Linked DNA regions of Homo sapiens. The gene in region 2 interacts genetically with the main gene of each other region. Each region holds a gene or a part of one and is shown on either strand. Other genes may lie near its edges.

The links.
Region 1: changes in CHEK1 (region 2) and USP11 are lethal when combined (synthetic lethality), as found in Homo sapiens cells (one large-scale study listed by BioGRID).
Region 3: changes in CHEK1 (region 2) and ATM together harm fitness more than expected from each alone (negative genetic interaction), as found in Homo sapiens cells (one large-scale study listed by BioGRID).

What each region holds. Positions count from the first base shown.
Region 1 is NC_000023.11:47,239,476-47,243,129, reverse strand, and holds part of USP11 (ubiquitin carboxyl-terminal hydrolase 11), read right to left. Parts: coding exon 3,649-3,654; intron 3,341-3,648; coding exon 3,223-3,340; intron 2,826-3,222; coding exon 2,680-2,825; intron 2,544-2,679; coding exon 2,482-2,543; intron 2,357-2,481; coding exon 2,254-2,356; intron 1,854-2,253; coding exon 1,680-1,853; intron 1,590-1,679; coding exon 1,431-1,589; intron 1,049-1,430; coding exon 824-1,048; intron 692-823; coding exon 608-691; intron 505-607; coding exon 410-504; intron 1-409.
Region 2 is NC_000011.10:125,635,011-125,638,664, reverse strand, and holds part of CHEK1 (serine/threonine-protein kinase Chk1), read right to left. Parts: intron 3,237-3,654; coding exon 3,132-3,236; intron 1,217-3,131; coding exon 1,121-1,216; intron 1-1,120. UniProt on the Homo sapiens protein: Serine/threonine-protein kinase which is required for checkpoint-mediated cell cycle arrest and activation of DNA repair in response to the presence of DNA damage or unreplicated DNA.
Region 3 is NC_000011.10:108,365,923-108,369,612, reverse strand, and holds the end of ATM (serine-protein kinase ATM), read right to left. Parts: 3' UTR 511-3,690; downstream 1-510.

The DNA.
Region 1 (3,654 bases), on a different chromosome or scaffold from region 2:
CACCACGCCCGGCTAATTTTTTGTATTTTTAGTAGAGACGGGGTTTCACCGTGTTAGCCAGGATGGTCTCCATCTCCTGACCTCGTGATCTGCCTGCTTCAGCCTCCCAAAGTGCTGGGATTACAGGCGTGAGCCACCGCGCCCGGCTTTATTTATTTTTGAGATGGAGTTTTGCCCTGTCGCCCAGACTGGAGTGCAGTGGCGTGATCTTGGCTCACTTGAACCTCTCGGGTTCAAGTGATTCTCCTGCCTCAGCCTCCCAAGGCATGTGGCTGAAGCTCTGCGCAGGGCAGGTGCCCAGTGAACGAGGCAGAGGCAGGGAAGAGAGAAGGTGGTTAAGGCAGGACCATACAAAAGGAAGTGGACCAAGTTCCTGAGGAACCACCACCTCCCTGCCATCCCCACTCACACGAAGATATCATCACGGTCCAAGATGCTGCTCAGAGGCTCCTCTAGCTGATAGAGCTTATAGAAGCGGTGACTGAAGACATCAGCCACCATCATCTAGGAATGGGATATGGAGAGGGGACTGTTAGTCTGCACGGCCTCCCAGGCCCTTCTGCCTCCTTGCCCTGGAATCCCATCCAGCCTCCTTCTGCAGTCTCACCCTCTCTGGCGAGATGCCCGTGTGTTTGGACAGAGCCACACATAGATCCGAGATCTTGCCTTTCTTGGGGACCACGAGCCGGTGCTAAGGGAAAAACGGTATCCACAAAAGACCAAAAGGGCTTGTGGTGAGTTAATGCAAGAAGCCTTGAGCTATGGCAGCTAATCAAACTCTATGTGTCCATCATCATCTCCCCAGGCCCCCACTGCCCCACACCTGCTCTGGCTTGCGGCGCGGATCCATGGGGATAAAGAAGACCTCCAAGACCCTCTTGTGGCTGATAGGCAGTGGAACACTGAGGTAGCAGAAGGGGTCGAAGGTCACAGATACATTGCCACAATCGGGGCACACCAGCGTGGACTTGAAGAGGCCGTGGAAAGTGTCCACGATCACAGAATCGTTCCGCCGTTTGTGGTTTTGCCATGCCTCCTGTGCCACCTCCTGTTGATAGTGTCATGGTGGGTGGTGGGGCTTGCCCAGGGTAAGAGGAAACCATGGCTTGGGGTGCATTCAAATGGGGTGAAGCGGAAGGCCACTGCTAAAGTCCAGAGGCAGAGCTCCAGCTAGGGATACACAGAGACTATGTTCACGGTCAAGACTGGGGGTCATTTAGGGCAGGAGACTGCGCTGGGGTTTACTCTGGGTTGACTGTGGGGGCAGATATGGTATTGCAACTAAGGTTAAGAGTAAGGCTGGAGTTGAGGTCAGGTAGAGAAACTTAACAGAAAATGGTGGCGTGTTAGATACCCCAGGGAGGCCAGAAAATCCCCGAGGCAGAGGCCTTGGTGATGTTAATTGGACTGCAAATGCGGGGGCAGCCTACCTGATCCGGTCGCCCAGCAGCATCGCACAGCTCCACATACTCCTTCTTCTTCACCCGATTAAGGTCCTCATGCAGCCCGTCCAGGAGGAATGACAGCAGCTCCTGAGAGTCATGCTGCTGGTAGCCCAGAAATTGGGATGCAAAATGGCCAACCTTGTTCTAAGAAGATGGGCAGGGTCATCAGAGAGAGAGGGAGTTAGGAGAGCCAAGAGACGTAGGGGGTCGGGGGTGCCCAGGGTTGAGTCACACCTTGAACACATGTGGCACAATGGAGCGGTGGTGGCCAGACCACGCCTGCTTCACCAGGTCTGCATAGGCCTCTGCGATCTCACCCTTCATGCCCAGTGGGTTGCGGAAGTTGAGCTCCTCCAGGTAGCAGTTGTTGAGGAAGTACTCGGTGAGCTGTGGCACATTGCTGAGGCACTGCAGAGGCCAGAGACCAGGTGAATGAGGCAGAGGGGAGACAGAAGGTTCAAAGTGAGGATACACAAAAAGAAGCCAGGAGGAAAGAGAGAGGAAAACAAGAGAGAAGGGGAAGGGAGGAGAGAGAGGAGCAGGAGAGTAGGGGAGAGAAGGCATTAGGATTTCACGAGAAGGAAGAACGTGGGAACAGGGAAGAGAAGAGGGAAAATGAGGGCAAGCTGAGAGAAGAGGCTGATAGTTCAGGAATGAACGTGGGCGTGCCACTTCAGACTTGTGGGGCCTCAGCTTTCATCCTGACCCCTTGCCCTGTAGTCCCCTCAGGACCCCAGCTCTGTCCCCAATCCTCAGCTCTTGAAGCCCAACCACGTGGCTGTGCCAGACACAACTATAATGGCCCAACCTGCAGGGCCGAGTTCATGAAGCACGTGTTGCCCAGATTGGTGAGGCCACAGATGCCTGGCTGACCCTTGAAGTCCTCATCCTCTTCCGACATGTTGTTGTTCCTGGGGTTAGATGAGAAACTGTCAGCTGAGGGCCTGCTGCATGGGGGTGCAATGTGCTCATGGGCTAAATCATTTTGCCTACTGTGGGACGCCCCCGCTCTGGACCAGATACCCCAAGGGCTCACATGACATGCAGCTGTGCGCTGGGCCAAGTGCCATCTTTCTTGCGGGTCTCCATGATGATCAACTGGGTTGGAGAAAGAGAAAGAAGGAAAGGTATTAATGGAGGACATTATGGGTACCTAGCCTTCATTTCCCCCGAGTACTGCCAGGTGAGTCTATCTGCCAGTCCACCTGAACAGAAAAGCCCTCCCCACCCTTACCTGCCCAGTCTCAAGGGCCGCATCGAGAACCGTGATGTGTGTGTCATACAACCTATCCAAAGAGCCTTCTGAGTTCTTGGCCCAAAGCCGAGTGTCTTCCTGGGGCTCCACCAGAAACCGCTCCCGAGCTGTGCGCAATACTAGGCCTGTGCGGGGTGATGGAGTACATTCAAGATCTTTGTGAGACCCAAAATGATCAATCCATCTGGGCATACCTGACTCATCCCTACGGACCTCACATGCTTGGCCAATACCTGTGTCCTCAATCAGTCTCCAAATGACTGGCCCACACTCCAGACTGGAGATCTCCAGCAAATATCCTCTGCCACACCACGTAAGCCACTAGAATGTAGCTCACATACCCTCAGGGCTCTAGTAGATCCCCTCAGTGCCTCCACCCAACTTAGCCAATGCCTTCTGGGTCTTCCAAAGTCTGACCAGTGCCTTCTCAGTCAGCTTCAGCTTAACCCTATGCAACCTCAAGTCACTGAGTTGGGACTAGTAGCTAGGAACACCAACCCATTGCGTGACCCTTAGACTCACCAATAGAATCGGTATGGCTGAACTGAACAGTGTGAGATTTGCCCAAATCATTGTGCCGGACAAGCAGCAGTTCTACTGGGTACACTTCGACCTTCTGGATGTTGGGCAGCTCTATGACCTGTAAGAGTAGAGGGGTGCAGACACAGGTGTACTCACACAGACACAGCGCTGTGACCTCTCAAATGAGAGGAGCACACACTCTGCCTTACAAACATAGCATACAAACACACATATACAATGGTCTGTAAAGAGAGCCACACAGGGGAACACACACAGCAGACAAAGATACCTGTATGATGAGCTAGGAGGGGGAAGAGAGCAGACATATGTGTACCTACCCAGCATACATGGATCTGTACCCATGCTGGGCCTACAAGGCTTTCTTACTACGCACTCCCCGCCATGCACCCTCCCCATCCATTATACCTTGCG
Region 2 (3,654 bases):
ATGTCCAGATCAAAGGACATGAGGGTATGGGAAAGAAAACACCTACCGCTTCAGAGGAAGCAGTGTCCTCAGGGGAGAATTGGACTTTAAGTTAGGACAAGGAGGAAGAAACATGCAGAGAGGTATTAAAGAAGAGTGAATGTTTAAACATTAACTCTTTTCTATCCATGAGGACAGAGTTAAACATTAATAACTCTCTGAATGTTTTTCATTCATCATCTCTAGTCATTGTCCTCTCTCCTTCCATTCACAGCCTAACAGTCCTATCAATACTAGTTCTTAAATTTCTTTGGAATCATCTCATTTCTCCAATACCATTGCCCTAACCTATTCCAAGCCACCAGCCTCCCACTTCTAGACAACTAGCAGAAAAACCTACAGCACCCTGAATCTTTCCCTATTCATAAAAAACAATGGAAAAAAAATAAGGAAGTCAGAGAAATATTTTTAAACCGAAGATATGACTATGTCATAGTCTTGCTTAAAATCTCTCAGAGGTCTCCCCAGTGGTCTTAAGTTAAAGCCCAAAATCCTTAACATGGCTTACAAGGTCTTCTTCCACAAATTGGCCACTAGCGACCTCTCTGGCCTCATCTCAAACCTGTCTTCCTCTCCCACTTCCCTGTTCACTCACTCAACAAATATTTAATGAGTGCCTATGGTGCACCATATACTGTGCTAAAGCACTGATGATACAATGATGAACACAACAGACACGGCTTGTGCCATACTGATCTTTCAAGTTTCTCAAAAGCATCAGACTTTCTAAAATCTAAGATTTTTCAAATACTGCTTCCCCTGTTCAGAATCAAATCTGCCACTTACTTTGCCTGCCTAGCTTCCCTTTAATCTTCAAATCTTAGATTTAATGTAATTTCTTCAGGAAGAAAAGTCTTCCCTGTCCCTTAGACTTGGTCAAACACTTAGCTATAGTACCCTGACTTTCCCCTTTATAATTATTAATAAACAAAATTATTTCTGTATTTTTTTCTACTGGACATTATAATCTCCATGAGGACAGAGATCATAGCTATCATGTGTTGTTGACTTGTGATAATAACTTTGCAATTACCTTTTCTTCCACAGAAAAACAAACAAACTTGTAGTTTAAGGATATTACCTTTCTTGAGGGGTTTGTTGTACCATCTATCTTTTTTGATGTCTGGAATGGTAATTCTTGCTGATGGATTCTCAACTAAGATTTTATGCAGCAGAGCTAAAAACAAACATTACGACAACATTCACGAAAGAATCATGTTAGAGAAGCCTATGGCTTGAGGTAAGAAACACATTTTCTGTTAGCCTACTTATGTCTAAATATTATTCCTGGGGAAGAGAAAGAATTAAAGCTACTAAATTACTGCTTTAATTTCATGCAGTTTTTCTCTGCTGCTGTATCTTGGAGTAGTCTTCCCTGATCTGATTCTCAATTGTTTGCAACTGAGAACAAGAGCCAGATGGAAATGTTTCTCCTCATGTGACGAGATTAACAAAAAGATACAGAAACCCCTCTTATCCATTTTCAATACCGAATTTCATTACTTCAATGTCATGTTCTCACGTGACCTCCTTATTCACACAGTTTTATAATGAACATTTACTTACCAATAACTTTTTAAGAGACAGTAATCTAACTAACCATCCTAAGGTATCTTAATTTTCTTGAGAAAAAATTCACGTATCTTCCTATGTGAAGATTATTTCCTAATGGACCAAAGATTTAAATGGAAAAATGAAGCCATAAAAACACTAAATGAAAACATAGGGAACTTTTAAATAGTAGAGGTAGAAGACCTTTCCAAAGAAATTATAGTCAGGGACCACAAAGGACAAGATAATAGATTTGAATGTCAATATAGCAAAACAAAATGAAAATAAATGATAAATTGTGAAAAGTATTTGTAACAAGTGCAAAGGTCAATGTGTTATCAAGGAAAAAAAAAAGCTTCAAAGTGGTAAGAAAAACAATATCCTTGACAAAAATGAGCAAAATAGACAAAAAACTAATACATACATAAAGGGTATACAACTTCATTAGTATTAAATTTAAAATAAAAATGAAAAACTATTATTTAAAGTTTTTTTCCTTAATGTAAATTGATGAGACTGTGATGAAATGGTTCGAACTTTCGGGAAGCAATTTGACAAAATAAGCCATAATAATAAAAACTACATCCTTGATCCTGCAATTTTGCTTCTGGGGATTTCAATGAACAATTTAAGGGTATGTGTCATGATTAAGTTACACAGATACTTATATCTCTTTTGTATCTGTGAAAATTTAGAAAAATCTCCAACAAAGTGATTAAAAGAGTAAAGTAAGGCATATCCACATGGCAGAATATTATCACAGCCTTTAAACCAACGATGTAGACCTACAATTATAGTCATGGAAGAATGTTCGCTGCGCACTAAAACCAAAAACAGTTACAAAATATTATTAGTGTGATCTCATTTTGTATAAAAACACATATAAATAATATACATATATTCATTTTACATACTTATGGGCCACATTAATGATGTTTCAGTCAGGAATGGACCACACGTATAACAGACAGTCCCATTAGATTATAATACTGTATTTTTACTATACTTTTTCTATACTTAGATACACAAATACCATTATGTTACAATTCCTTACAGTGCTCAGTATAGTAACATGCTGTACAGGTTTGCAGCCTGAGATCAATAGGGTATACCAAATAGCCTAGATTTATAGTAAGCTATACTATCTAGATTTATGTAAATATACTCTATGATGTTCACACAATGATGAAACCACCTAATGAAACATTTGTTAGAGTGCATCCCTATAATTAAGCAACAAACGAGTGTATTTGCAACAAAGTATAGCACATATGAAAACTTTAAGTAAAAAGCCATCTAAGAGCAGATTCAAGTTGCTCTGAATATACACTCCCCAAAATATTTTTAAAAATCTATTGCAGAGTTCTGGGACTAAAGAGTTATTTTTTCCTTAATTTTTTACTTATAGTTACTATTTTATCTACAACGAACATGAATTATTTGTAAGTTTAAAACAAAAAAAAAAGTAAGAAAAAATTCAAATAGCACAAGACTTCATATCCAAGAAATCGGTACTCTTTCACTCAAGATAATTCAGTTACCTAGAGGAGCAGAATCGATTTTTTTCCAAGGGTTGAGGTATGTTTTTTTTTCTTTCCAGTCAGAATACTCCTGACAGCTGTCACTGGGTTGGTCCCATGGCAATTCTAAAAACAAAGCAAGTCCCAGTTTTTTTAAATGTTCTTATTATAAAGATTTCAAGGAAAAATAATAATATAAATCCATGAAAAGTTTCCTTTGAATTAATTCAATATGGTTTTCACACTAAGAATCCCAACTTGGAAACTTTAGAGGCACTTCAAAGATAGATGAATCAGGATAGGCATGGCAGCTCAGGCCTGTAATCACAGCACTTTGGGAGGCTGAGGCAGAAGGACTGCTTGAGCCCAGGAGTTCAAGACCAGCCTGGGCAACATAGTGAGACCCCATCTCTACAAAAAATAAATAAAATTAGCTGGGCGTGATGGTGTGCATCTGTAGTCCTGGCTCCTCAGGAGGCTAAAGTGAGAGGATCACTTGAACCCAAGAGGTCAAGACTGCAGTGAGCCAAGATCACACTGCTGC
Region 3 (3,690 bases), about 17 Mb from region 2:
ACTTACCAAATTCTGAGTCATTATAATCTTTGTGGAAACTTTGACTCCACTATATTTATGCAAAATGCATTTTGTTAAAATCTAGGCAAAAGAGACTAAAACTCCAGAGGACTGAATTTATTTTAAAAATATGATAAACAGGTAAAAAACTTTGCATTTAGGATACCAGGATCTTTGCACTTGTCATATTCTAGTACAGATCTTTTAGGCTAGAAATGTCAACTAGATCACTTTCTAGGCCCAAAGAAAGAACATTCATATTTGCCTTTTCGTCAGGAGGCGACTAAGAAACACTACTAGGATATTTAGACTGAGATGCAGCATTATCAGACTGGTTGTGCAATAGGCTCCCCGGTTCACACTGCGTGGTCAGTTGCCTATCCTCCTCAGATTGGGAGCTTTATATAGGCAGACTATGCCTGCCTTGCTCACTGCTTTCTCCTTAGAACGAGTCCCATGCCTGGCACACAGAACACACAAATATTTGAATAAAGTGAATGAGTCTTAGTATATGCTTTTAGAATTATTTATTCAAAAACACTTTATAATAAATTCAGGTAACAGTAAAGTAATACATTCAATAGTACTAAAATCTATAGAAAATAGATAATTTCATTAAGGTGCAATTAAAATACTTGAAATTGGGACACATCTCTATATTTCAAACCAATATACTGGCTTTCTTTTTAAAAGACTATTCTAGTCTTTACGCTGTCCAAAGTTTTTCCTCTTTGCTTTTATTTGCTTTAGACCATATTTAAATTTTTAGCATTCCTAAGTGCATACATTTTAGGCATATACTATAATGACCAAGAGTTTGTGAACCTACTGATTAGGTAAACACTTTGGGGAGGTATGACCTGCACAAAGTAGGGTGGGAAAGCTATTATCTCCCTTAATCTGGACACAACTGTTCAAGCAGTCTATAATTTATTAGCTTCTCTGATAGCTTCACTATTTGGTTTTCATTGACCTTTTGAGCAACTGACTGGCAAACCCCAGATTCTTTTCGCCTGAAATCTTTTCAAGTTAGATACTGTCCATATTACACTTGTACTTATAATTTACTATCTTCTTGCCTTGGACAACTTATTTCTCCAAATTCTGATTTCTCCAGCAGTGTATTGGGATAGTATCACTAATCTTGCAAAGTAAAGATCAGAAATGCTGTACATAATATGGGTCAGTGACTTAGCATACAACAACTATTCTATGATTAATATTTTCAAAATCTAACTACTCCTCATTTGTCCTTGGCAGTTTTCTATCTTAGTCATTTGCAGAAAGAGTTCCAGCTTGCCAAAACCTTTTTTTTTTTTTTTTTGAGGCAGAGTCTTGCTCTGTCGCCAAGGCTGGAATACAATGGCAACCCTGTCTCTACTAAAATTACAAAAAAAAAATCTTTTATAATCTTAATTCTGTCATCTGTGAATTAGTTATTTCTCCTAGGCTTGTGATCTGTATGTAAATTTGATAAACTTTTCAAAGCCATTGATTAGAATACTTGAACAGAACAGGAGCCTCATAGCATACCATGCAAGGCTAAAGAGTAGATTAATGATGTTATTCAAAGCTCTCTGGATGCAACAACTAGCAAGAATTAGCTACAAATTCATTTATCTATACTATTATCTAGTTGATAATTTCTAATTTCACCCATGAAGATTTCAGGGCTTTCTTAAAGACATTTTAAGTTTACTGCATTTCCTTGATTTACTATAGTAATAAAACTACCAATATATACCAAATATTCATTTAGGCAGCTTGTAAGAAAAAGATACACCAAGGTAAGTTTGTAATTTGAAATGCAAAGTAATATTCTGAACAGTTCTCCAGAAGTCAAACCAAGAAATTTATAGTCCAAAAAGTTCTGGAGATTGGTTTTAGGGGAGGGGAAGGTGAGGAGATCAAATATGAATGAGTGCCTGCCATTGGCAATAAAAAGAAATGCCAACTCTTCATAAGAAAAAAATTTATATAACCTTCAAGGTCCAAATACGAGGAGAAAGCTCAATCACCCATTTGTTAATCTCCGCAGCTGGGATGAACATTTTCCTAAGGATGGAGAAGAGATTATACTCACTAATACACGAGTCAGTAGTTTTACTTTCAGGTGGCTTTTTATCTGATGTTTATCTTATATGATGACAGCTGGGGGACAGAGAAATGTTCCACTTCTACCTATGTATCAAACTAGATACCTAAGCCCTTCCCTTCCAACAGAACACAGAGAAATGCTGGATAAAATGTAGAAAACATTCTTTTAAATACATAGCAGAACTTACAAGAAAGGGGAAATCCTTACGGTCAAAAATGAGGGGAATGAGGCCGGGCGCGGTGGCTCACACCTGTAATCCCAGCACTTTGGGAGGCCGAGGAGGGTGGATCACGAGGTCAAGCGATCGAGACCATCCTGGCTAACACGGTGAAACTCCGTCTCTAATAAAAATACAAAAAATTAGCCGGGCGTGTTGGCACACGCCTGTAGTCCCAGCTACTCGGGAGGCTGAGGCAGGAGAATTGCTTGAACCCAGGAGGCAGAGGTTTCAGTGAGCTGAGATCATGCCACTGCACTCCAGCCTGGGTGACAGAGCAAGACTCTGTCTCAGAAAAAAATGAGGGGAATGAAAAACCAGAGAGGTGAATATGTGAGCTGATGCTGTAGCTGTCCTGGAACAATTTGCCAGTCTCATTAACCCACGGCTTTTAGCTTAGACATCTATATGGGGAGCAAAGAACCCAGGGCTTGCCAAAGGCAGGCAGTGGGAATTAAATGTACCTCCTTCCACCCCTGCCATAAAGGTGGGACACATGGAAGCTTATACTCTCAGTGAAAAAGGCATCAATCAAATATTCTGCCCACTAGCACAAGGAGATGAGGAGGAAGTGTGTTTGCCTTGGCCTGGGAAATCTCCTATCAGTATTTATGCTACACTTCAGGTATGGAAACCCTAAAGCCAAGAAATTAAAATAAGAATGGGCTTGTGTGCAGCAACAGCCCTGGGAATATGACATAAACAGACACTCAAGATTCCCATAGATAAAGCCTTGCTGAAAATAAACTCACTTTTCAAAAAGACAAAACTGGATGAACAGCCTATCAAATACAAAAATCAACAGATATAAACAGCAGGAACTAAATTTAATAGAACTATTACAGTGTCTATCAAGTACAGACATTTAAAATAATTAGTGACATAAAAAACATTAAAAAAACATTAAAAATGACATCAAGAAACAGAGATCTGAAAAATGATGCATAATTAGAAATGAAAAACAATTTCTGAAAGAAGAAGCCCAATGGATAGGGTAAAAGAGATTATATACATCTGACAAGAGAATTCATGAACTAGAAGGCAATCTATGAAGTTATCACAGAAAGATAACATACATGGACAGTACAGAAGGGCTTAAAAGATAAAGAGAATAGAATGAGAAGTTTTAATACACACTTAAAAAAATAGTAACTACACTAACTGTGTCTTTGAAATTTGTTCTCCATAACAACTTCATTATTTAGTAACACTGAGTGATCTTACTAGGAAAAATCCAAATACGTTTCTGTTTTTTTTTTTTTTTTTTTGAGATGGAGTTTCGCTCTTGTCACCCAGGCTGGAGTGCAATGGCATGATTTTGGCCCACAGCAACCTTCACCTCCCAGGTTCAAGAGATTCTCCTGCCTCAGCCTCT